5 separate regions of the Homo sapiens genome follow, and regions 1, 2, 4 and 5 are each linked to region 3. The links come from fine-mapping of genetic effects on gene expression. A gene starts in region 3. Each other region holds a variant in brackets. All regions are shown on one strand. Distances are from middle to middle. Region 1 overlaps FAM110B (family with sequence similarity 110 member B). Region 2 has its middle 120 kb from the start of LINC03133. Region 3 holds the start of FAM110B (family with sequence similarity 110 member B). Region 4 has its middle 60 kb from the start of UBXN2B. Region 5 overlaps FAM110B (family with sequence similarity 110 member B).

The links. PIP is the estimated chance that this variant, and not a neighbour inherited with it, causes the effect.
Region 1: its variant is fine-mapped to the expression of FAM110B in whole blood (TOPMed, PIP 0.93).
Region 2: its variant is fine-mapped to the expression of FAM110B in whole blood (TOPMed, PIP above 0.99).
Region 4: its variant is fine-mapped to the expression of FAM110B in whole blood (INTERVAL, PIP 0.95).
Region 5: its variant is fine-mapped to the expression of FAM110B in whole blood (TOPMed, PIP 0.98).

The regions. Positions count from the first base shown.
Region 1 is chr8:58,014,522-58,019,628 of GRCh38, reverse strand. The region is part of intron 1 of FAM110B (family with sequence similarity 110 member B); the gene reads right to left. Among named protein-coding and RNA genes, the nearest start is that of FAM110B, 23 kb to the right of the region's middle. RefSeq lists an enhancer at 5,009-5,107. The variant C/T (reference allele first, on the strand shown) is at 2,500.
Region 2 is chr8:58,153,061-58,158,156 of GRCh38, reverse strand. No RefSeq gene overlaps it. Among named protein-coding and RNA genes, the nearest start is that of LINC03133, 120 kb to the left of the region's middle. RefSeq lists a silencer at 3,342-3,441. The variant G/A (reference allele first, on the strand shown) is at 2,179.
Region 3 is chr8:57,991,934-57,997,040 of GRCh38, reverse strand. It overlaps FAM110B (family with sequence similarity 110 member B), which reads right to left and starts at 2,518. Exons shown (of 4, transcript NM_001377989.1): 1 at 2,235-2,518. RefSeq lists an enhancer at 1,567-2,067 and silencers at 2,072-2,121, 2,142-2,191.
Region 4 is chr8:58,348,608-58,353,714 of GRCh38, reverse strand. No RefSeq gene overlaps it. Among named protein-coding and RNA genes, the nearest start is that of UBXN2B, 60 kb to the left of the region's middle. The variant T/G (reference allele first, on the strand shown) is at 2,690.
Region 5 is chr8:58,125,704-58,130,810 of GRCh38, reverse strand. The region is part of intron 3 of FAM110B (family with sequence similarity 110 member B); the gene reads right to left. Among named protein-coding and RNA genes, the nearest start is that of FAM110B, 130 kb to the right of the region's middle. The variant G/A (reference allele first, on the strand shown) is at 2,347.

The DNA of each region.
Region 1 (5,107 bases), 23 kb before region 3:
AACCTAGAATACTACATACTCAGCAACAAAATGAAGGCAAATTCAAGAAGTTTTCGGCTAAATGAAAGCTAAGAAAGTTAATCACCAGCAGACCTACCCTATAATAAACAATAGAGAAAGTTCTTCAGGCTGAAGGGAAATAATACCAAATGGAAAAAATTTAGATCTCAGGAAGAAATGAAGCACACAAGAAATGGCAAATGTGTGGATTTATACATAAATATTTTTTCTTTTTTCTTTCTTTTCTTTTCTTTCTTTCTTTCTTTCCTTTTTTTTTTTTTTTTTTTTTTTTGAGACAGAGTCTCACTCTGTCGCCAGGCTGGAGTGCAGTGGTGTGATCTTGGCTCACTGCAACCTCCACCTCCCGGGTTCAAGAGATTCTCCTGTCTCAGCCTCCCGAGTAGCTGGAACTACAGGCATGTGCCACCACACCCAGCTAATGTTTATATTTTTTTTAGTGTAGATGGGGTTTCACCACGTTGGCCAGGATGGTCTCGATCTCTTGACCTTGTGATCTGCCCACCTTGGCCTCCCAAAGTGCTGGGATTACAGGCGTGAGCCACCGCGCCTGGCCTTTTCTTTTTTACATTTACAAAAAGATATTTGGCTGAAAAGTAAAAAATAATGTATTGTGAGGTGTACAACAAACATACAACTAAAATAGAGAACAGCACAAAGGACAGGAGGAGCGTAAAGGAAAATATACAGTTGTAAGATTCTTACATTTAATGTGAAGTGGTAAAATATTCATTCAATGTAGATGGTGATTCTCTATCTATCTATCTATCTATCTATCTATCTATCTATCTATCTATCTATTGTAATCCCTAGAGCAACCAGTAAAAAGTAAAACCAAACCTTGGCTAAAATGCAAAGGAGACAAAATAAAATGCGAAAAATTACTAGATTAAGCCAAAGTGAGGCAAGAAAGAAGGAACAAACAGATCAAACAAATAGAATACAAAAAATAGGGTAATAGACTTAAAAATCAACCGTATCAATGTCTAATATCATTGTAAATTACAATCAATGTAAATGGACTAAACCCCTCAGTTAAAAGGGAAAGTTTGTCAAGACTGAATAAAAAAAGCACTATCTAACTGTACACTATAAGAGACACATTTAAAGGATAAAGATGAGGTATACTAAAAATAAAGGAATGGAAAAAATATATACATATATATACCATGCAAACTCTATAATCATGAGAAAGCTGGTGTGGCTATTTCAATATCAGACAAAGTAAACTTTAAGACAAGAAGTATTTCCAAAGACAAGGAAAAGGCATTACATAATGATCAAAGAGTCAATTATTATAAAGACCTGAGAGTTCTAAATGTGCATGTACCTAATTATAGAACTTCAACTAAATGAAATAAAAGTTTATATAACTAAAGACAGAAACAGATAAATCTACAATCACAGGTGAAGATTTTTAGCACTCTGCACTCAATAATTGATAGAACAGGCAGAAAAAATTATAAGGATATTAAAAAATTAAATACATTTGTTTGAGCATTTAAAAACAACAATTAACTAAATTACACATTTTTTCACATTCTATAGCCCTGTGAAATACAAAAACAATAACATTTTTGGTTTTGGGGATAAAATGACCCAATACACGTGAAGAGCTTAAAACAGTACATTATGACATACAGAGCAATCCTTAACAACAAAACACTCTTTTGAATAATTCTTAGTAATTTTATTCTTCATGTTTTTCTCTAGTCCTGGGGAATCTCATGACATTATTACCAGTCTGGTCTTTGTGTTCAGGTATTTCTCAGCTTTTGATTCTAGTACCAGTATTAAATACCTCATTAGCACCTTTCAGCTACTCATTCACATGAAATATCAAATCAAACCAGATATCAAAAATCCAATTGTGTGTTGATTCCAAGATACTGAAGCTTGTGGATATCTTTCTTCACAATTTATTTTTTAGAGACTTTGAAAACATCTTCTAAGAGATTGAGGCTGTAATGTCACTCAGAATTTTCCAAACAAAAACATCTTTTGGACTTCATGCCCCTCAGCACATACAGAAAAGAAACTGCACACCCTCTTCCACAATTCCTCCACTCTCACTGATGTCAAGTTCAAGTTGAGAGCAAAGCTAAGCTCTCCACTTCACCAATAGTAAAGAGTACCTGAGGCCCTTCCCCTAGACATCAGTAAGTCTAGGGTGGAGGCCTGAAATCTTTATATAAAATATGTGCCTCCAGTGATTCTTATGAAGAACTGGTTCGCATCTTAACTCGACTTTCAGGTTTTCACACAGATGTAGCCCTGCTACTCACTGGCCACATCACCTTGGGCAAGTCAATTAATATCCCTCAGCCAGTCTCTTATCTATAAAATGCAGACTTATCTACCTTTCAGGGTTCAATGAAGCGGCATAATGCCTTAAGCCTTGTAAATGCTCAAATCTTTGTTGAGGAATGAGTAAGAAAACATGCATGATGGGCAAGAAACACATGCATCCAAGCTGCATGA[C/T]TGAGAAGCACTAACTCCCTTACCTACCACACTAGCATCTCCAGTCCTGGCATCTCTCCCTAACTCAAACATTTCCCTAGGCACTGAAAAAGTAAACTGCTAAAGTTCTCCAGACTTGCTGTGCTGTTTCGAGCCTCAGTCTGTTCACTAAGTCTGTTCTATCTGCCTAGCATTTCCTTCCTAAATTTCTCCCCCTACTCCCTGCTTCCAGCCTACTCCTTCACCTGGCTAACATCTACCTTCTCTTAGAAGGCAGGCACATCTGATTCAGCTCAAATCTGACCTTCTTCAGGAAAGCTTTTCCTGGACACACTCCCTCCCTCATTCAGGCTGTGCCCATGCTGCTCATTGCACCAGCTTCTCTTGGGCCCTGGGCTTAGCCTTTTCTCTGGTGCATCATGAGCTCCTGGAGGGCACAGAACATGACAAACACAGACTGGAGCACTTCCTGGCATGAGGCAACACCACGAGGCAAACAGGATGAATACGTGGAGTTGGGTAGCTAGCCAAACTGAGACATTATGAAAGATCTTCCTTCAGGTTCTTGGCTGGCCAAAAATTTGACCTGCAACCAAGCAGCGCCAGGATAGGCTTAAGCTGGGGAGGAACTGAGCTCCCCGCTCCCACCAGCAGGTAGCATCAACTCTCCAGTCAAAGAGCTGAGCCAGAGCTTAGCCACATTGGGTGCTGGAGCCTCCAGGCTCTGTGCAGCCTCAATATGACTGCAACCCCAGCCACATCTGAGAATAACCTCCCGGGAGGCCCAAGCCAGAAGCTCCCTGCTAAGAAACTCCGAATCCCCACAGAATGTGAAGAGAGAAAATCTGTATTATTTGAGCCACTAAGTTTTGGCGTCATTTGTTATGCAACAATAGATAATACAAATTTTACTTCCACACCTGGCTCTCTTTGCCCAGTAAAATCATTTTCTAAAAGCATTTATTTCATAGATTTAAAAAATACCATCAAAGTGGCAATGAGAGCATGTGTTCCAGTTCCCTCTGGCCAAATCCACCAAAGAGACATCAGATTTCTCAGATGCTAAAACTGATTAAAAGATACTCTACATAGCTTTGTTTTCGTGAGGTATTAAGATTAAATGGGTCAAATATATAATTAAACCATATAAATAGAATGAGTTGAATGATACAGTTAGGAATAGTTAAATATTCCAAGAGTTAAATTTATTTCCAAATAGGACCTATTTTAATTATGTAATACTCATTTAACTGGATTTCACTTGAAATCCTCATGCCTTTTTTCTTTTTCTTTTTTTTTTTTTTTTGAGACAAAGTCTTGCTCTGTCACCCAGGCTGGAGTGCAGTGGCACAATCTCAGCTCACTGCAACCTCCACCTCCTGGATTCAAGCGATTGTCCTGCCTCAGCCTCCTGAGTAGCTGAGATTACAGGCACACACCACCACACCTGGCTAATTTTTTATTTTTAGTAGAGACGGGGTTTCATCATGTTAGCCAGGCTGGTCTCGAACTCCTGACCTCAAGTGATCTGCCTGCCTAGGCCTCTCAAAGTGCTGAGATTACAGGCATGAGTCACCATGCCCGGCCCCTCATGCCTTTTCAAGAACACGTTTTAGTTAACTGAGGGCACTTTTACTTAAGGACCTAAGACTAAATTTAGAAATTATCTTCACTGTATTCCTCCAAAATTAATCAATAGTATCTGTATCCATTTTTGTTGAAAAACAAATGTTCTGAGAGTATAAATTTAATGTCACCTTTTCTGAGAGTGTAAATTTAATGTCTTTTTTTTTTGAGACAGAGTTTTGCTCTGTCGTCCAGGCTGGAGTGCAGTGGCGCAATCTTGGCTCACTGCAACCTCCACCTCCAGGGTTCAAGCGATTGCCCTGCTTCAGCCTCCCGAGTAGCTGCGATAACAGGCATATGACACCATGCCCAGCTAATTTTTTGTATTTTTAGTAGAGACAGGGTTTCACCAGGTTGGTCAGGCTGGTCTCGAACTTCTGACCTCAAGTGATCCACCTGCCTTGGCCTCCCAAAGTGCTGGGATTACAGGCGTGAGCCATCGCACCCGGCTTTAACGTTATCTTAAACAAAAACTGCCCAAGCTGTCTGAGCATAAAGAAGAACATCAACTCATCAACTAAAACAATTAAAATTCCTAAGAAAAGAAAGTTATTTTGTAAAAATATTTTTAAATCCAAGGAAATAAGTACATTTTCATGGCCTAAAGTCTTGATGTTAGTAAAAATTTCTAATAATCACTACACTTATAAATATTTTATTTATAGCAGAATATGGTACAAAAACATTTTCTTTTAAAATTAAAAATAAAGATAATAGGTTTGCTTCCAGATGTCCAAAATGTTTAATAAACGATAACCCCAAAACCAAATCATAATTGAACTTGCATTTTAAATATGAAAATCTACACAGATTAAAGAAAAATGCAAAGCAGTTAGGGAAAACATACATGTATGTGACTTATTAAACAGAAGTTTTATTTTAAAAATTAGGAACTGCACTGAAGATTCTCAATGAGAAGGTTAAAGCCTGTTGCATCAAAGGTCATCTTCTCTGGGAGAACTTTTACAACCCTTTCTGCCCTTTGCAGCAGTTTCCCTGCAAG
Region 2 (5,096 bases), 160 kb before region 3:
GGTATCTGCAGAGCACCTCCCTCACTTCCTTTAGTCTTTCTCAAATGATTCCTTGAGCAGGCCACTCGCTCTCTCTCCTCCCTGTTTTATTTTTCTTTCCCTAAGTGCATGCCATCATCTAACATTTTATAAGTCTGACCTATTTAGCTATTGGATCTACTCTCTGTCAAGAAGCCGGGCTCCTTATGGCTGTGAGCATCTATTCTGTGGGGGCTCATTGCTGTATCCCTTGGGCCTAGAGATGCTTGGTTCATCACAGCAACTCAGGGAAGAGAGGTGAGATGGAGAAGGTAAAGAGGGAGAACCACAGCACACATGTGTGGGGAGCCTATGAAGGGACAGGACATAACTGATGGGAAGCCACCCCACTAAGCCTATCTGGTCTCTCCCCACAGATTAAGAACCCCAAAGTGCTCCTAGTTCTCTCTACTCCACATCCATTCAGCAAACATTAAGCACCTACACCCAATACTTGCCACACAGTTAACTAGGGCCTGGCGATACAGAGGTGAGAAGAGTGCCCATCTTCAGGGAAGTGATTGCTAGTGGGCACCTGCAGGTGGGCAGAAAGATGGATGTTGAGCAGAACCAGCCTTGACAGCAGCTGTGTCACCTTCTCACCTGCAAGACACTTGCTATTCTTTTCTTTTCTTTCTTTTCTCTTTTCTTTCCTTTTCTTTTTTCTTTCCCTCTAAACCTGAATGTGTGAAAAAGCAATCCAATCAAAAGGAAAATAGTGTTAAGAACAAATACATGCTCAAGGAAAGAAGATCCTTTACACTTCCCTTTGAGCTGGAAATCAGCCCTACAATCTGCTTGTCTGCATAGCATTTCATATCTCCCTGAACAGACCCCAAAATCACCAGGATTTAAGTTTTGGAAATAACTGAGTATAATTTGACCCTCAGCACATTTGTCTGGAATACATTCCTTAAGAAATCCAACATGTGCGTATATACACGGCAGAATGCACAAAACTCCATCTCAACCATTAAACTGCTGTTAAAAGGTATCAGGTGGGGAATTAAACTTGAAAACATTTGGGAACCCAAAACGCTATCCAGATCTCCATTCATAGATTTTTTTTTTTAATCAAAAGAATTCTCAGCAGATGGTAGTAAGTCCATAAACTCAGAGCAAGGGGTCTTCAGGGAAGTGAGTTCATTTTAGATCAGATGCTTCAACACCGAGATGCTCTGAGAAATCTGAAACATGGATAGAACACACCAAGCCTTTGTCCAAACCAAGTGGAGTGATTTTCCGGCAGCCACAGGCCTTAGCCACACATTCCTAAACCATGTGCAGCTGTCAGCTCACTGGGGGGACACAGGGAAAGCTGTTAGTGAAAAACCACATGCCCATGAAGTTAATAAATGAATGTCTCAATGTTTTCCACCAAAATAAAATGCTCAGTAGCTCAAGTCCTTAAAATGGCCTAGAACTCAATAGAGGAAAGTGATGTGACTGAAACATTCACAGAACCTGTCTGGGAGCTGGGTTTGTGAGGCACATAAATACCTCACCTGGCTGCTGTTCTCCATCTATTATAAAAAGGAGGAAAGGACTGGAAAAGATTATGTATGCCTAGAAATCCTCGAAAGCTTCAAACTTATTTACACTTAAGAAGGCAAAACATGCTAAGCCAAGCATTCTAGGAGGTGGTGTAATGAGAATTCTCTCTCCCATTTTCCCTTTTTCCCAGTTGAACTTCCATATGTTATCAATTACGAGCCACCACAGTTTCATTCAGTTGAGGGAGCAATTGCATTCACGCATGGCTTGTTTCCCTCTGCCCCAGTGAGCAGAATTTCCAGAGAACAGGATGGTGAACCCGTGGTGGAGAGGTCAGTGTGCACACATTGAAAGGCTAAAATGGGAAGTGTTTCTGAGGCCAATTTGCCTGGAAAACTGTCTGCCAGGAGGGCTTCAATGGTTAATACCCAGCAGCACTACCCCAAGGATATATTTTCGCATAAAGGGTAAGTTTTTGTATTTTGGCTGAGAAAAGGAGTATGCTACTCATTGTCTTTTGGGACAAATATGAGGGTATCAAGATTCAGCTCATATCAATAGTCTTAGATTATTATTTCCCACGCCCCACACCCCCAGCAGAGCTTCCCTGGCTCTGGGCTATGGTGCAAAGTGAGCAGGACTTCCCCTTCCTTTGAAGGCAACTGC[G/A]CAAGGAGTGAAAAATACTTGCTTGTAAAATCTCTTTGTAAAAAGAATTTCATATTCTGGACTCCCATTACCTCAAACATGCTGTCTGGTTTATTTTCCAAGAACAGGTAGGAAGAAAACCCTTCAATGTCAAGCCCAGTTGCCTCTTGTAGAACGGTGGTATCAGCAACAGAGACAGGGGAGGCAGAAGGGCATGAGCTGGTGGGGGCTCCACAGCCACGAGGTGGGATTTAGTTGAGGAGTCATGTTTGGATTCTTCCATTCATTCCAAAGGTACCTACTCTTCACACCCCTGTGCCAGACACTGAACTGGGTAAAGGAGGTAAAAGGTGACCAAGAGAGTCACTTAATGAATATGGTAACTTCAGATTACAAAGAACCAGGAAGGAAATACGAAGGGATGGAGATTAACACAGCATCTACTTTACATAGGGTGGCAGGAAGGGCCCTCTGAGATGTCAGCTGAAGCAAAATCTAAGACGACAAGTCAGTAACAGGAAGATCAAATATCAAGGGAAAAATAGTCTACTAAGGCCAAATGGCAAGATCTTGGCCCCTGGGGACTGGGGTGAGAAGAGCTGGTACGTTCCACAAGCATAGAGAGAGAAGGAGCCCAGAGCAGGGTGAGAGTGGAGAGAATGGGGGCTGAGGGCAAGGGGCCTGGTCGGGAGGGACTACTGAAGGGCCTTACAGGCTGAAGTTTGGCATTTTAAAAGAATTGTGTCATAACTGCAATGGAAACCACAGAATGACACCATGTGATTTCTGCTTTTTAAAGATCACTTTTGGTAGCTTTCTGGGAATACACTGAGGGAAGCAAGAGCAGGGTGGACACCCACTCAGAGGCTATGGTGGTGGTCCTCATGACAGATCACAGTGGCCAGAATGCATTGGGATATTGGAAATCAACAGAGGTTGCAACCTGATTTCAATCTGCCGAGTTTGTCACAGTGGGCAGGTACAACTGAATGCGTTTTTTAAATTTCTGAAAATAAGCCTCCAAAAAGCTAGAGCTTGTAATTGTGGTTCTAAAATGTATCAAAGTATTTTTAAGTATCTGGCAACTACAATATTCTCACCTGATTTCCAGTTAGCAACACTGAAAATCATCTGTGAAAGCAAAGACTGCACATGAATCATCTGGGGAACACTTGTGAAAAGGTGGATTCCTGGTCTCTGTTTCCTACCACCCCCTCCTGATGGGACAGCATGGCGGTCTCTCCTGTGTGGCAGATTGGGTGCACTTCAACAGAGGCTGTAGCCAGAACAGGATAGACTGTACCACAGTAAAAAAAGAGCCCCACACTATCAGTGGCTTAGAAGGATAAAGTTTATCCCCTGGGTTGACATAGTCCTTCTGGGTTAGGATGGAGGCCTTTGTTCCACACTGTCCTCATTCAGGATCCTAACGGAAGCTCCGCCCTATGGGACTCTGCTGGTTGCCATGTCAGGAGGAAGAGAAGAGAAGACAATCGTGGGCTGGCTCTTTATGCTGCCTCCCAACTGTAACATGTCGCTTCTGTTGGTGGCTCATTGGCCACACCTAATGCTATGAGGTGTAGAAATGCCATTCTCCTAGGATCTTGGAAGGAGAGAGAAGGGGATATCAGAACCAGTGGCAATGTCCACCTCAGCAGACAAGGAGGCAGAGGAACCAGGCCTGGAAAGATGGTTCTTGAGATATTGAGGATAACTGGGCATCTATGGATGGTGAAGTTAATAAAATGATATTAAGACAGTGGTACTCATTTCCAAAATTGACAAAAACTTCCTTAGATAAATTTCTCCATCTTTATTAAGTATTTTATGTTTGCTAGGATTAATTTAAAAAGTTAATGTATATTAACAGAAAAACTCTAAATCAAGGTTTCTTTAAATATCTGATACATAGTTTTTGAGTCAAGGGAAACTGCATAAAAATAACAGAGTTGGCTGGGTGCAGTGGCTCACGCCTGTAATCCCAGCACTTTGGGAGGCCAAGGTGGGCAGATCACAAGGTCAGGAGGTTGAGACCATCCTGGCTAACACGGTGAAACCCTGTCTCTACTAAAAATACAAAAAAATTAGCTGGGCATGGTGGCGGGTGCCTGTAGTCCCAGCTACTCGGGAGGCTGAGGCAGGAGAATGGCGTGAACTGGGGAGGCAGAGCTTGCAGTGAGCTGAGATCGCGCCACTGCACTCCAGCCTGGGTGACAGAGCGAGACGCTGTCACAAAACAAAACGAAACAAAAAAACAGAGTTTATGTTACCCAGGTTGCTCCTACTTGGCACGATGGAATTGTTAGCCTTGTGAGGCTCCACTGTTCCCTGATCCAGCCTCCTTCATGGGGTCTGAGCAGCTGTCTCCCTGTTCCAGCCCCTCTGCCAGTTCCCTTGCCCTACAGCCCTGGCTGTGTCCACCACCTCACTCATCTAGATCTCCGTTTTCTCCTTCGTACAGTAACATGGAGAGGGACAGTTTATTGCTAATGTCCCTCTCAGAAGAACCCAGAAACTTGGGTCCTGATGTGATCACATACGCTCAACAGTTTTGAGTCACTCACTCTATGAAACAATCACAAACCAGTATGTTCAACAGTGTTTTAAGTTCTGAGAAATGTTATGTGATGCAACTTACTGCAAAGAAGCAAAAGTGGTTCCTGCCATCCTAGATATTAAAAGTTCATTTTCATATGCACAGAATGAGTCTTAGGATATGTTTTATGAACCTGGGTTTGTGTTTTGCTTTTTCCATTTACTGGATGTGTGCCTTGGAGAGGAAACTTAATCCTCAGCTTCCTCATCAGTAAGATGGATTTTAATTTACTTCTAAAGTTCTTGTGAGAATAAAGTGAGATAATGTGACACAGTGCTTAGCATAGTGTCCATCTAAGACATGCTAATAGTTGTTTCATTAATGTCACATGAAAAGAACATTC
Region 3 (5,107 bases):
CAAAGTTAAAGGGGAAAGGAGAACATGAAATAAGAGTAAACTCCTGACAATCATTTAAAATATCTAAATAGGAAACACAATCTTTGGTTACTAACACATGGCAAATAAGTAGTTTTAAATAAGTGAGTTTTCTTATCTTAGCTAGTTAGGCTATAAATCCTGCTCTAAAATATTTTAAAGCATGAAAAAGAATTAAATGCTCTGGTTGTTGTATATACAGTAGACATATTTATCTTTTATCATCTTTTAACACTGTGAGAGTTACTTAACTCTGCTGTACCAACGGTTCTTTCCATTGGGAATTGGAAGTGGGATTCTAAACCTAGAGAACAAGGGAGTGCAGGGGAGGTAAGGAATGGGGTTCAGAGCCCAGGTCTTCCCTAATGTGGAGGCCTCTCTTTAAACAATTAGGCTCTTAAAGACAACCAGGTCTCCTTATGAAAGGCACCAGGGCATGACTGGGTTCAAGACTGATGTCTTGCCCTTAGAGATCCAATATATAAGATGAATTAAATCAACCCTCACCATGCATAAGGATACGCAGAGAAGCCTGTCAGTCATAGGCATAATAACAACCCAACCTCAGCCCTGATCTAAAATTAAAACCACAGACTTAAAATAGATCATGACCTAACAGATCAGAATTTTAAAAATCAAAACGACCATTTTCCAAACAGAAAATAACACATAGCTTGATAAGAAAAATTAAAAGTAATATTAGCTGACACCTAGAACTATATGCAAGGCACTGTTCTAAGCACTTTATGTCAGGCTAACAAGGCACCAACCACCTCTCTGTTCAATTAGTGACTTTACATGTACAATCTATAGTAATACTACAGATTAAATACCGTAGGGTAAACCAATGGGATGTTATCAGTGAAGGATTCTAGTTTACCATTAACTCACCTTTATTCTAGAATAACTATGCTTAATAAATAGCTTACCTGAATGACCAGGGGTTGTGATGTCACAAAAATGAGTACAAGAAATTAATACAAGTATCTTCCCAGAAATCACTACGTGTAAACTGGGGGGAAAATAATAAATACCTTCTTCACCAACAAAGGAAACGAAGAAAATGGAAGTCCTACTATCCATACTGCAAAAATGCTTATTCTACTATCATATTCCCTTTTGAGAAATAGACCAGTTACGCCAGAAGTGCAATGTTGTCACAGATGTGTGCCAGATTTTGCAGAGGACATAAGTTGGCTGTGAGGAAGAACACAGAGGTTGCCTATTTTTTAGGCAGGAAAGAAAGCCTGCACTTTTCTGTGTGTGTGTGTCAATAAATCTGAATAACAACTTGAAAGGGTTAAAAAGCTGAGCACCAGGTGTTTTCTTTCCACTTTCCAGAGTAATTTAAGCACACTGCAAAGTTATCTCCCTTCCTTCCCCACGAGCCAGCTTAAGGGAGACCTGTCACTGCCATTTACACTGTACAGCTCCAGCTCTAAACAATAGGAGGGCACCAGGCTGGGCAGCAGGCATCGCGGCTTCCCACAGCCTGTATGGGCTTTGTTGCCAAGTTATGAGCTCCGCTGGGTGATGGAGACACGAGTGAGCCAAGGAGAATTTAATTCTATTTCAAATCTGTATGCTTTCAAAGAAAATAGAGACAATTGAGGCCACGGGAGGAGCTGGAGGGGGTAACCAAAAACAAACTTTCGGAACCTCAGAATCTACATTTCTAGCAGTAATTCTCAGCAAAGGATTAGGTGGTATTGATACTCTCATAAAGTATTTAACACCGAGATTAGAGACCATTCAGGAGCGGTGGCCGAGCGGAGTCCCCATCCTTCGTAGTCCCACTCCTCCAGCAGCAACCGGCGGCGCGCTTTCGGAGCCCACCTCCGCTCCGCAGCGCGGCCAGCTTCCCCCCGCCCTGGCTCCAACCCCGGCTCCAGCCCCGGCCCCGTGCCCAGCCTCCTAGCCGAGCCCGGGACGTGCAGCCAAGCCGAGCGCAGAGGGGGCGCGGGGCAGGCAGCGGCGCTGCGCCTCCCCCGGCAGCCCAGAAAGCCGGACGGGGTCCGCCTGGGCCAGTGAGGCCGGGCTCAACGGAGACCCGGGCCGGGCGGGGAAGCTGCAGGCGCAGAGCCGGCTTAGCTCCGCGCCGCCTGGCCGCGCGCAGCTCCCGCATTGTCCGCAGTCGGGGCGCGGCGCGACCACTGAACCCGAATCCCAACCCCCGCCCAGCAGTCTCTCTCCCGGCCCCCACGGCCCAGTCTTACCTGGGCCGCTCACCCCAGTCCCTGGCGGTGCGGCCCGAGCCGGGAGCCAGGCTCCGGGGGACTGCAAGGAGGGAGAGTCGGGGCCCGCGAGGGACGAAGGGCCGAGAGCGGGCTGTAGGGGCCGCCGAGTGTTCACGGTCGCCGCCGCGGGGCCGCGGGTAGAGAGCAGACGGGGCTGGCGGAACGGGCCCAGGACGCGCGGCCGCGAAGGGCCCGGCTGGCGGCGGCCGCGATGGTTCGGTCTGCACCGAGTGGGAGGGCTCAGGCAGGCTTCGCCGGAGAGTGAGGGAGGGAACTTGGAGCCAGTTGCTGTGGCCGAGAGCGCGTGTCCCTGAGCCAGTGTACACGCCCCTCGTACACCCCGCCCCGCCTCCATCCCGCCCCCACCCCACCTTCCGGGTCCCCACCCTTCTCGCACCTCCACTCCAAGCCCTGCCTCTCTCTCAACATCTCCACCCCGCTACTGATGCCCATCCCACCCCATCCCTGACCCACCCCCCATTCCACTCGGTCGGCGCCTCCATTTCCTCCCTATCCCCCACTCCCACCTATGTCCGCACGCAAGCACCCCCACCCTGCTCCCACCCGGTGATACCGCTGGATCTCGGACTGCCACCCCAGTGCAGATCGCTCAGCACTGGAGACGTAGAGCCTGTGCCCTGAATGAGATAACCCCACCTGGTAGTCCAGCCATCCAAACGTCTTGGTGCTTGACATTTTCTGTTTACTAACTTTCATATACTCAGATGGAGCGTCCTAGCTTAATTTCTGAAGGCATTTTTAAGACTTCAAAAAAATGTTTGGAGAAAATAGTAAATAACGAAAAATATCAAGCATGATGTACTACCTCTGAAATGTGGGCCAGCTGATGTTTTAAAATGAAATGCTTTGGGGTGCGTCATTATTAATCGCCTAATATAGTATTTGAGAATACTTTCTGCTTAGATTTGCTTAATAACTTGGTTGTTTCAGGAGAGGATTTGTTTTAGGAAGACTAAACACATTGTAATTTAATTTTGCTATTGGGAAGTCTAAAAGATAAAATCCATCTTTATCAAAATGAATTTGAATGGGATATGGACTCACAAAATAATTGTTTCTTCTAGAAAATATTGAGCAAGGATTTCTTTTTAATCTCTGGTACATTAACAATACGATTTCACTCATCTCATTTTCTCAGAAAGATCGTTTATATTTGAATTGTGCTTCAATTCAATGAATCTATTGTTTCATAATAGTTAAGAAGTTGCCAACTAAATAAAACTCAGACTTTATAATAATATATTTTTTTTCTATTTAAAGATTACCATTTTAAGAAAGTGACATGATACTGGGATTTAAATGGAACTTTCCTTTGGCATACTAATACATTCCTTGTTATCACAGATTACGTTGTGGTCTCCATTAACTCCAAAAGTCATATAACAATAGAAATAAACTATTTTTCATCATTCCCATAGCAAATGGAACCAACTTCTCTCCCTCTCAAGTATACTTTTTTTCCCCACTTCTTTGCCCCAATCCCTTCCTTTTAGGAATTTCCCCCTCCCATTGGGTGTGACTAGCCCACAGAGCTTCCTGACATTGTGAGGGATATGACCCAGGCCAGCCAATTAGAATATCGTCTGAGAACAAAGGAGGAGGGTCCTTTCCCTGACTGACAGGGCAGCTCCTGGGACCATATCATATATGCGTGCAGCAGCTGGAGTCAACTTACTGGAGAATAAAACAAAACCAGAAAAAAAGCCAAACTGAGCAATGGAGACAGAAAAGTGCCCTGATGACATCAATGGCCATCCGAAGACAGTCACCTCTAAAACCAGTCAAATCCTGAACTTCTGAAGTAATGCACCAATAAATTGTCTTTCTTGCTTATGCCATTTTGAGTTAAGTTTCTTTCCAGAAGACTCACTTATAAAATCATAAAAGATTCCCCTATGATCGATGCTTTGAAAATCAGGAATGTAACCAATGAGTTTTAGCTTTCTTTCTTTTTTTTTTTTTTTTTTTTTTTGATGACAGAGTCTCACTCTGTCACCCAGGCTGGAGTGCAGTGGCATGATCTCCACTCACTGCAACCTCCACCTCCTGGGTTCAGCAATTCTCCTGCCTCAGCCTCCCGAGTAGCTAAGATTATAGGCACGGGCCACCACGCCCAGCTAATTTTTGTATTTTTAGTAGAGACGGGATTTTGCCATGTTGGCCAGGCTAGCCTGGAACTCGTGACCTCAGGTGATCCACCTGCCTCAGGCGCCCAAAGTTCTGGGATTACAGACGTGAGCCACTGCGCCGACCAAGTTTTAGCTTTTCTATTGCCTAAACTACTTCTTGATAATAAAGTATATGCCAAGGAGTTCACTTAGTAGGACCCCTAACTCTTATTATTAAGGTTCTCATTTAGGGTTTTACTATTGCCCAGTGTAGATTTAATAGCCCCAAATTGTCATCACCAAAACCAAAAACCAATAAAAGATGTGGTTAAAGAGACAGAGAGAACACAGTAAAACATCTATGCTGGAATATTTCAGTAAATATTGTCTTATCAATTATGCCAATAAAACTGCTCTCATAATCCCTAATGTTTGCTGATTTAGGACATAGTTTTCTTGTTTTGGGGACTGAAAATGTTAAGGACTGCTACAGATTTTCAGAGAATGTTGAAATTAGTTGTTTGTACTAGAATTTTATTGTGTTGTTTATTCTTCAGAAGTGGGCCATTATCCTAGGCTTGGAATTCTTTTGTTTCACAGAGGTTTCTGTCTCTAAAAGTATGTAACAATATTTGACTAGTACCCAAACAAGCATCCATACACGAATCAGAATGTAATTTAACCATTATTCACAGGTGACTCTGGACAGTGGGACTATTCCTA
Region 4 (5,107 bases), 360 kb before region 3:
CTTGCTTCTCAGCTTTTGCTTGCACTATCCAGCCCTGCCTGGAATGCCTTCCTTGACGTCTCCATGTACCAAAACCTTCCTTCAAAGCTCTGCTCAGGTCCTATCTCCTGTAGGGAGATGTTCTCCATGCAGCCTATAATTTTCCTTTTCCCTGAGTTCTTACACTACCTTCAGGGCATATTGCTCATTGGACCATTTCAATACATGCTGCTTTTGTCATGTGGTGTGATATAGTTTGGGTGTCCCCCGACCAAATCTCATGTTGAGATGTCACCCCCAGTGTTGGAGAGCGGGCTGGTGAAAGGTGTTTTGTTCATGGGGGCAGATCCCTCATGGCTTTGTTCTGTTCTCACGATAGTGAGTGAGTTCTTGTGACATCTGGTTGTTTAAAAGTGATTGGCATCTTCCCCCTTGCACTCTCGTTCCTGTTCTCACCCTGTGATGTGCCTGCTCCTGCTTCACCCTCTGTCATGAGTAAAAGCTCCCTGAGGCCTCCCCAGAAGCTAAGCAGATGCCAGCACCATGCTTATACAGCCTGCAGAACCGCGAGCCAATTAAACCTTTTTTCTTTATAAATTACCCAGCCTCAGGTATTCCTCTATAGCAATGTAAGAGCAGCCGAACACATGGTACTTTCTCTGTGCTTTGGCTGTCAAGTAGACAAGTGTGAGCTTCAGAGGTAAGAGTTCTTGTTTCTCCCACAGTGCCCTTGCACTTTGCAGAGGCTTAAGATTTGGCAACTACTCTAGATGAAAAATTCTATTGTCAAGAGAATTAATGCAATGGATAGGAAAATTAATGGGATTTCAAAACTTGTGTTTAATTCCAGATCGCTAACCCCTACTTGGTGTAACCTTGGGTAGCATAATTAATCCCTTTGAGAATTTCCTGATTACACACACACAGACAACACATGTGCATACACACGCATCTGATGGCACCATTGTGAAAATTAAATGAGGTGATGTGACTGAAAATCTGGTATGTATTGGTATGTTTGCTTATCCCACTCATATGATATTCCAAAGATAGTGGATATATTATTACTTTGCAGTATATAAAAGATATTATTGGCAACAAAAAGAAACATTTGCTCTGACATATGGAACAGCCTTGAGCTCTTGGGCAAGCATCCCTCATGCAGTCATATCTTTATAATTTTTGAATTATGGATTAGAGCTTGTATCCTCTTAATTACTTTGGGGTAATAGGGATCTCCATTTCAGTTTAATTGAACCATATAATTTAAATAATTAATAAGTTAAGCAAATTGAATAGGAGGTCTGGTTCAGGCATTCACAGTTTCTAATCAGGCAACCCAAACCAACAGGAACAGAATTCCAAGGAAAGGATTGAGACTAAACACAAACGAAACACAACGTAAAGACAGATGACTCTCACACATTACATTGATTACATGGAAGGCCATTGCTATTATGAAGTAAAATTCCTTTAAAAACTTCTCAAATAAAGGTTGCATTTACATATCTACAAGACAATATTCATGTTTTTTCAAAATTTTATTTGGATTTCAGAATCTTTAGGCTGAAGTGGACTATATAGATTCTTATCTCTTGGATTAGTTTTGAGATGAGGAAATTGAGGCCCAGAGAGTTCCTGTGGTTTGTCCAGTGTGACAGGTCCAGTTAGTAGCAGAGCCTGAACTAGATCGCTAGTAATTTGAGCCCTGGCTCTTTTCCATGAGATTCTGCTGTCTTCAGGTTTCTATATTTTTAGCATAGGGATTTTCTGAGTTTTGGAAATCATGAAATCTCTTCGTCAGATGACCACTGTGTAAAACAGCTAAAACCATACCTTCTGTTTTGGGAGGTTTGAAGAGTTGGAACCCTTAAACCTCCTTTGCTCCCCACCCTGAAATTAGTGGCAGTCATGTAACTCCAGGGCTCAGCAGAAAAAAATAATGTCTGATTTGGCCTATTCTTTCTTTTAGTACTAGTAGATATTAATGTATATATTTAAAACACATTTGCAGGTTAGGATAAATAAACATAGTTTATTTATCAATCTTACCCGGTCATATCTGGGTAAATTTGGTCACTTAGGAAAATGAAACAAGAAAATTATTGACTGTGCAAATGTGGCCACATGGGTGTTTTTTCCACACATTTATGTCAGCATATCTTATTTGTATTTTAAACACTTCTTTTCTAATGCTGGATTCTTGCTAGTTATGGGGAATTGTGACAACATTTGCAATATTTTCAAACAGCAATAGAAACTTTGAAAGAATATCTAAGGTGGCCAACAGACAGTAAAGTTTACTTCATCTCCATTATATGTTGCTACCATGCCTCCTCCATGAAATAAATTGTAGCATTTATTTTTATACAGTTGAAGATGCAGTATTCACTTACCACTTGTCAGAAGTGTTTCTTGATATGCTGCCCCTATGTGTTATCACGTCAACTCCATCTGTCCAGAACGCTGTTACTGTTTGACGCCATTGGGAGTTGGAAGATAGCAAAATAAGTCACACATTCTCAGGATGGGGCAGATTTGCATAGAGATCTAATCATTACGGTTATCTGAATCGAAGCCTTGTACGTGGGTCCCCTAAACTCGACAGAAGAAAGCAGGCAGCACTGTGAGAAGACAGTGTTTCTATGCCAGCCTGTCATTGCTTTTCCTGCTTTTATGTCTCTTTCAAATTTTTCATTTGTTAAATAAT[T/G]GAATTCTTACTTGATATCAGCTTATCATGTTAACTGATGGCTATATATTTTAATGCAAAGGAGAAAACCCTCCAACCTGTTTTGGAAGACAGAGTTTGAAAATTATTCATACAGTATACTATTTCCAACTTACTTTTCAATTTTGGAAAACAGTGAAAAAAACAAAGGATAATTCATATTTGTATTAATTCATTCAAAAAATATTCACTGAGTACAAATTATGTACCAGCTACTGGACTAAACCCTGGGAGTTGAAAGATTTATTTGGTGTGAGCATATAATACAGAGGTGAAAAATATGCACAATTAAAATACTTACAATTCATCATGACTGGGGCTGTTTTGGTGCGAAAAATGCTTTGGGAATATCAGAGGAACCTTGGGAAGAGAGAGAGATTTTGAAAAAGAAGCTGGTATTTGAATTGGATTCTTAAGCATGAGAAGGACTTTGCCATAATAACCACAGCTGTGGTGAAAAATCATGTCTGGGAAAGAAAATAGATGTGCTGAGGGCCTGCAAAGTCAATAAAGGGGTTGAGGACACACTGTGGGGAACAGAAGCTGGCAGGCGAACCAGGTGTTCGGGGCAATGGAGTTAGGATCTCGGTGTACTTTTGTTGAGTGGAATAAATGCCTGTATGATAAGAATAAACTATTGGAAGTATCCCAAATATTCAATGCTGGGGGAATGAATAAGCAAAATGTATATATGGACAATGAAATCTTAGTCTTTAGGAAAGGAAGGACATTCTGACACATGCTACAACATGGATGAACCTTGAGGACATACTCAGTGAAATAAGCCAGTCACAAAAAGGTAAATACTATATGATTCCCCTTATAGGAGGTACCTAGAGTAGTAAAAATTATAGAGACATAATAATAATATAATGTAGAATGGTAGTTTCCAGGGTCTGGAGGGAGGGGAGTTATCATTTAATGGGCACAGAGCTTCAGATGAGGAAGATGAAAAAGTTCTGAAGATGGATGGTGGTGGCAGTAGCACAATATGAAGGCACTTCTTACCACTAAACCATATATGTAAAAATGGCTACAATGACAAATTTTGTGTTATGAATAAATACCACAATAAAAATACCTTGGATCATTAAAATAAAAATAACTTGGCCGGGCGCGGTGGCTCACGCCTGTAATCCCAGCACTTTGGGAGGCCGAGACGGGCGGATCACGAGGTCAGGAGATCGAGACCATCCTGGCTGACACGGTGAAACCCCGTCTCTACTAAAAATACAAAAATTAGCCGGGCAAGGTGGCGCGCGCCTGTAGTCCCAGCTACACAGGAGGCTGAGGCAGGAGAATGGCGTGAACCCGGGAGGCGGGGCTTGCAGTGAGTCGAGATCGCGCCACTGCACTCCAGCCTGGGCGACAGAGCGAAACTCCGTCTCAAAAAAATAAATAAATAAATAAATAACTTGGATAATTAAAAAAAGAGAAATAGCTATTAAATGTATCATTCCTCATGGAGGTTTTAAACTCTGCGGAAACACTGATCATGACTTTGCTAGATATCAGCATATGTGAGATTTACATAGGGGCTTAGGTGACTGCTAATTCAATATGGTGGTCATTAGGTTTTCAAAGAAAAGGAAAATTATACTTAAATTTTCCTAGTCAGGAAGATGGCTATCTTCTCATCATATCATCATATGGTGGAAAGAGGGTGAGAGAGCTCTCTGGGGCTCCCTTTTATTAGGACACTAATTTCATTCATGGGAGGTCCACTTTCAGGATCTACTCACCTTCCAAGGCCCTACTTCCTAATACCATCACATTAGGGGTTAGAATCTCAACCGGTGAATTTGGGGGCGACACAAATATTCAGCCCATAGCTCATAAATAGCTAGGACATCTTCGAAACAAGTAAACATCACCCACAAGGAAATGAGTAAGAAACCTGAAAAACAAATCCATGTTTTCAGCTGGCAATGCAGGCTTTAAACATAATTAAAAAGAGGAGTAGGAGAATGAATGGAGGAGACAACTTGAGCTAGGCTGGTCAGGAGAGACATCAAAATCCAAGTGTTCTTTTCATTGATACTCCTCAGTAGGAAGAGATCATTCTCTTCTACTCCATTGGGAGAACTGGACTTGGGTGGGCCCTGAGACATAACATCAGTGCCTGGCACCAGCCTTCCTGGGACAGAATGAAGCTTTCCTCCAGGACCCGGATCTTCAGACCAGTGCCTCCTTCTGATTCCTGGCACACAGGCAGCATTCTTCCCAGACCCTTGCATCACATTGTGGGGAAGCCACAGTAGCACCAGACCTTTCCCCACGCTGTGGCCTGTGCCTGCATCCCATGGCTCACCTAGACCCCTTTCCTACAGTTGTTCAGAGATGCTTTGTGATTTCCCAGCCCTCATTTTTATTTTGAACATGGTCTATCCGTTAGAAGGT
Region 5 (5,107 bases), 130 kb before region 3:
CATCATCTGTAAGACAGAGGAAGAACGTACTGCTTCTGTGAACTTAAAGTTTATCAACAGGGAATCAGATCCTAGGAGAAAACAGCTAAGAATTCATAGAGTAATATAATAGCTAAGGAAGGGATTCAATCATTCAATTTATACTCACGCTGGGCACTGTTACTAGCACTGGAGGTATTGACATGAATGGAAGAGACACAATTCCCTGTTTTTGTGGCATGCTCAGGCATTCACATACATTCCACAGAACAGATTGCACAATTCAGGGTAGAGATGGAGGAGATTTTATAGTTGGATTCTAAGGGAAAATGTAAACTGTGCCTATAAGGAGGAAAGGCTGGTGTGACCGCAGGTTCTAGGTCCTAGGGTCAGAACATGTGAGTCCCCTCCCCCATTTACCACTGCATGACCTTGAAGAATCGTCTCTCTAACTTTAGGTTCCTTAGCTGTGCCATGGGGCTGATACCAGGACTCATGATCGTAGAGGCGGCAATATATGTTAGCTACTGTTCTTTTTAACGAACTGGAGAAAACATTATCAGATGAACATCATAGACTATAAAGGCAATTTGCAGATTAACAGAAGGAAGAATTTTTGAACAATTCAAACTGTTCAAAACTAGAATTCATTGGTTTTTAAAGAAGTGCTAGCTTTTTATCCTAGGAATGCTTCATGCAGAGGTAGACTTAACATCTGTTCAAGAAATTTTAGAGGGGATTCCTATAATGGGTGTAAGGAGGAGGCAGGTGAATGTCAAGTTCCTTTCTAATAGGTTCTATGTTTCTTTGAAACTTCTACTTTCAAAGCAAGAAGAAAGGAACATGAAGACAGAACATGAAGGCAGAATTTTAAAGATAAACTGTAATAAGAATTTAAGCATTAAAAAAATCATTGCAATATATTAAGAAAGTGACAAGAATGTTTTTGATAAGTAGATTAAATCTAAGAAAAAAAAAGACAGTAAAGAAGAGGGAGGTTTAAGCAGACTGGATGAAAAAAGTAAGAGCGGAAGAAAGAAGGAGCAGGATGCGGGGCATCTCATCAGCCGTGGGCACTGGAGACCCTGCATGGGTGTGGCTCTGCCTTGGTAAGCTGTCAGCCTTTTGTTCCTCCCTGTTCTAGTAGCCGCAATCTGTGCCAGGGTTGATCCCTCACATCCTTTATGGTCCTGAGCCTCGAGCCTCACATACTTCTCATACAGCATGTATGAGAAGGTACAGAATGTGTACAGTGCCTCCAGCAGCGCCTTCCTTTCCTCCAGGCCAAGGGAACCACTGGACAGGAGCCATTTATTGGGCTAAAATACTACCAACAGGGGCCCCGAAGGGGGTGGCTGACTGGAGAACGGAGGCAGCTTCTAATGTTATCGAGAGGTGGATGTTTCTGCAATAAACTGTGCTAAAAGGTCATGTTATATTTGCATGTAATGTGTCAGCTTATTTCTGAGATTATGATAGTCTTTGGAAGACATTTAGCCAGCAATTACAGTTCAGTAATCACCTTGTTAATTCTCCAGTTGGGACACAGTACCCCTGAGGCCACTGGCTCAGAGCTGAGATGACATCAGAGACCACTGGGTGTAATGCTTGCCTCTCCAGACCAACTCTGACTCAGGTGGTTTCCCTTCCATTAGCCTAGAGGGGATCGAACTCTTTTGTGACATTCTTCTTTCTTATTGACTATTAGAGGGAAGATGTTGAATGTTTCTCTTTTGTTTAATAGCTCTAAAGATAGACGGAGTCTTTTAAACCTTCATCTATTTTATTTACTAAGGCATTCTGGATCACTCCCAGCGTTGTTTCTAGAACTCAGGAGGTGAAGCTTTCCTGTGTTTACAAGGATACTTGAAAAGACATTTCAATAAATGCAGCCAATACGTCTATGAAGAGCCAATGATTCCTTTTAGCAGGCTAAAACTGACCACAAAAGAAAAGTTATCCTAGGGAGATGATGGAAAAAAAAATATAAAACTTATTGTTTGTCTCAGAAAATATTTCTAGTCTTTGGACAAAGAACTACTCAAAATGCAATTTCTCATTTTTCAATGCCAGCTTTTTCAAACATTATGATCAACAGCAAAATGTGACCTACTTCCTCTGATACCTCAGAAAAGTGATGTGTCATCCCCAAATCCATTTCCCCCACTTGCAGGGCAAAAGACAAATACTTATACAGCCATCCTTCTCTGACAGATGAGAAGGGCTCTTTTAATCAACATTCTCAAAACACAGTTAATTTTTTTTTTCCTGAAAAGTATCTATCAAATGTTTCCCTATGGCTGGACAATTTAAATAATCCTTGGGTTCAGCTCTCTAACTGAAACTGAAATCCTAGAGTAGACTGGG[G/A]AAACTCAAAACAGGGCCTCACAGGGTGCTGGTGAGGGAAGTGATGTAAGGATTACAGTGATTTTTCGAAAAGTAGAATTCTCTGAGAGCACTTGATGTGAGAATCCTGATGAAACCAAAGAAGGCCCTAAGACCCCTAGGAGGCCGTGGAACACTGAACGCAGAGCAGATGCAGGACTCATGTTGGTCTAGTCTGAATCCTGCTTCCCTGTCTTTTAGCTCTGTGACTCTGGACAAGAGAATTCCATTTGTGTGATTCCCTTTTCCCATGTGTTAAATGGGATAATAACAGCACCTTCCTCACAGGGTGATAGTGAAGGTGATATGGCGTGAAGGCTGGAAGACACTGAGCACAGGGCCTGTCTGTCATACAGAAGGTGTGAACTATATTTTTATAGTAAAACGGTTATTTTTAATTGGACATACTGACAGTACTTGTGTATTGTGAGAAAAATCACTTCCCTGGTCAATCCATCCAAACACATGCAAATTCTAGATGTTCTTGTAAAAATGAAATGGATTAAAAGAGAATCTCCAAAACCCCTTATGGAATTTGAGAACCACTGCGCTAAACCTGTTTACTTTGAGGAAATCTGACATCTTCACTAGGTTGAGCCTTCCTGTCCATAAATAGGGATCTTCCTCTCCATTTATTTAGACTTTTGATTTTTTTCATCAGTGTTTTGTAGGTTTCAGCATATAAGTTCTAGATGTGTTTTATTAGATTTATTTTTAAGTATTACATTTTTTTTGAGCCAATGTAAATGGTATAGTATTTTTAACATGAGTTTCCACATACTCACCACTATTGAGAAATACAATTGACTTTTGTCTGTTGATCTTATATTCTGCGAACTTGCTGAACTCACCTTTTGGTTCTAGGGTTTTTTATTTACATTTTTGTGTAGATTATTTGAGATTTTCTATGTAGACAATCATATAAGACAAGATAGACAATAAAGAAGAAGCAGGTGTAAGAAAAGTGGGCCAGATGAAAATGAGGGAGAAGGTCAAGCAAAACCTCCCATCAGTTATTTGCGAGCTTATGCAAGATTATGCTAAAACTTATATGGAAAGGCAAAGGAGTATAATAGCTAAAACAGTTCTGAGATAAAAGAATAAAGAATGAGGAATCAGTGTACTCAATTTCAAGACATTATCTAGCTACAGTAATCAAGATTGTGGTATGATGGAAGGACAGATGCACAGATCAGTGGAGCACAACATATAACCCAGAAAGAGCCCCACACAAGTTAAGCCAACTGATTTTTGACAAAGGTGCAAAAGCAATTCAAAGAAAAAGGACTGGACTTTTCAACAAATGGTGCTGGAGCAACTGGATATCCACAGGCAAAAATATAAACGTTGACCTCATACCTTTTATCTCATACCTTATACAAAAATTAACTCAAAATCATAGAGTCAACTGTAAAATAAAAAAATGTTATTATTAGGAAACAACAAAGAAGAAAATCTTTAGGATCTGTGGCTTGATGAAGGGTTCTTTGATATGACATCAAAAGAGTGATCCATGAAAGAAAACTGATAAATTTGACTGATTAGAATTACAAAAACTTTTTATCTGTGAAGGGCTCTGTTAAAAGGATGAAAAGATAGGCAACAGACTGGGGAAAATATCTGCATGATATACATCTGACAAAGGGCTCATATCTAGAACATACAAAGAGTTCTCAGAACTCAACTTTAAAAAAACCAAACAATCCAATTGGAAAATGGGCAAAAGACATTTCAACAAAGGGCATATAAAAAGGGCAAATAGACATATGAAAAGATGTCAACATTATAAGACATTAAAATCTATCACTATTCATGAATGAGCTATCACTACACACTTGTTAGAACAAGTAAGATTAAAAAAAAAGAGAGAGAGACACACCACCCAATAAATGCTGGCAAGAATGCAGAGAAACTCTATCACTATATGCCTTGATAGTAGGAATGTAATAGTGTAGAGACACCCTGGTAAATAGCTGGGCAGTTTCTTGAAAAACTAAACATACACTTACCATAGAACCCAGCAAGTGCACTCCTGGGCATTTATTCCAGAGAAATGAAAACTATATCCACACAAAAACTATACACAGTTGTTCAGAGCAGCTTTACTTGTAATAGCTCCAAACTAGAAGCAACCAAAATGTCTCTGAATGGGCAAATGGTTAACTAAACTATGGTATATCCATACAATGGCTGATACTCAGCAATGAAAAGGAACGAACTATTGAGGCATGCAACGACTGGGATGTATCTGAGGAACAGCTGCATGAAAAAAAGCCAATGTCACACAGTCACATACTGTATGTATATAACATTCTCAAAATTAGAGAGATGGAGAACAGATTTAGTGGTTTTCAGGAGATAAGGATGAGGAGTCATGAGGGTGCTTGTAAAGCACAGGATCTCTGTGGTACAGAATAGGATCTTGATTGTGGTGGTGGTTACACAAATCTATGCAAGTGATAAAATGAACTATACATACAAGCTCAACTTCCTGGTTTGATACTGTACTATAATTATATAAGACATATAGCCATGGGAGGGTACCGGGTGACACATGAAACTTCTACCATCTTTGCAACTTCTTGTGAATCTGTAATTTCAAAGTAAAATGTTTAAAGAAAACAGCTGGGGGAAGAGACAGAGATCCATAATCTGCTTCCCAAATAAAGGAACAATCATGATTTTAAAAAATAACAAGAGGTTAAAATTACAATGTAAATTGACATGTTTCTCAGGTCATAAG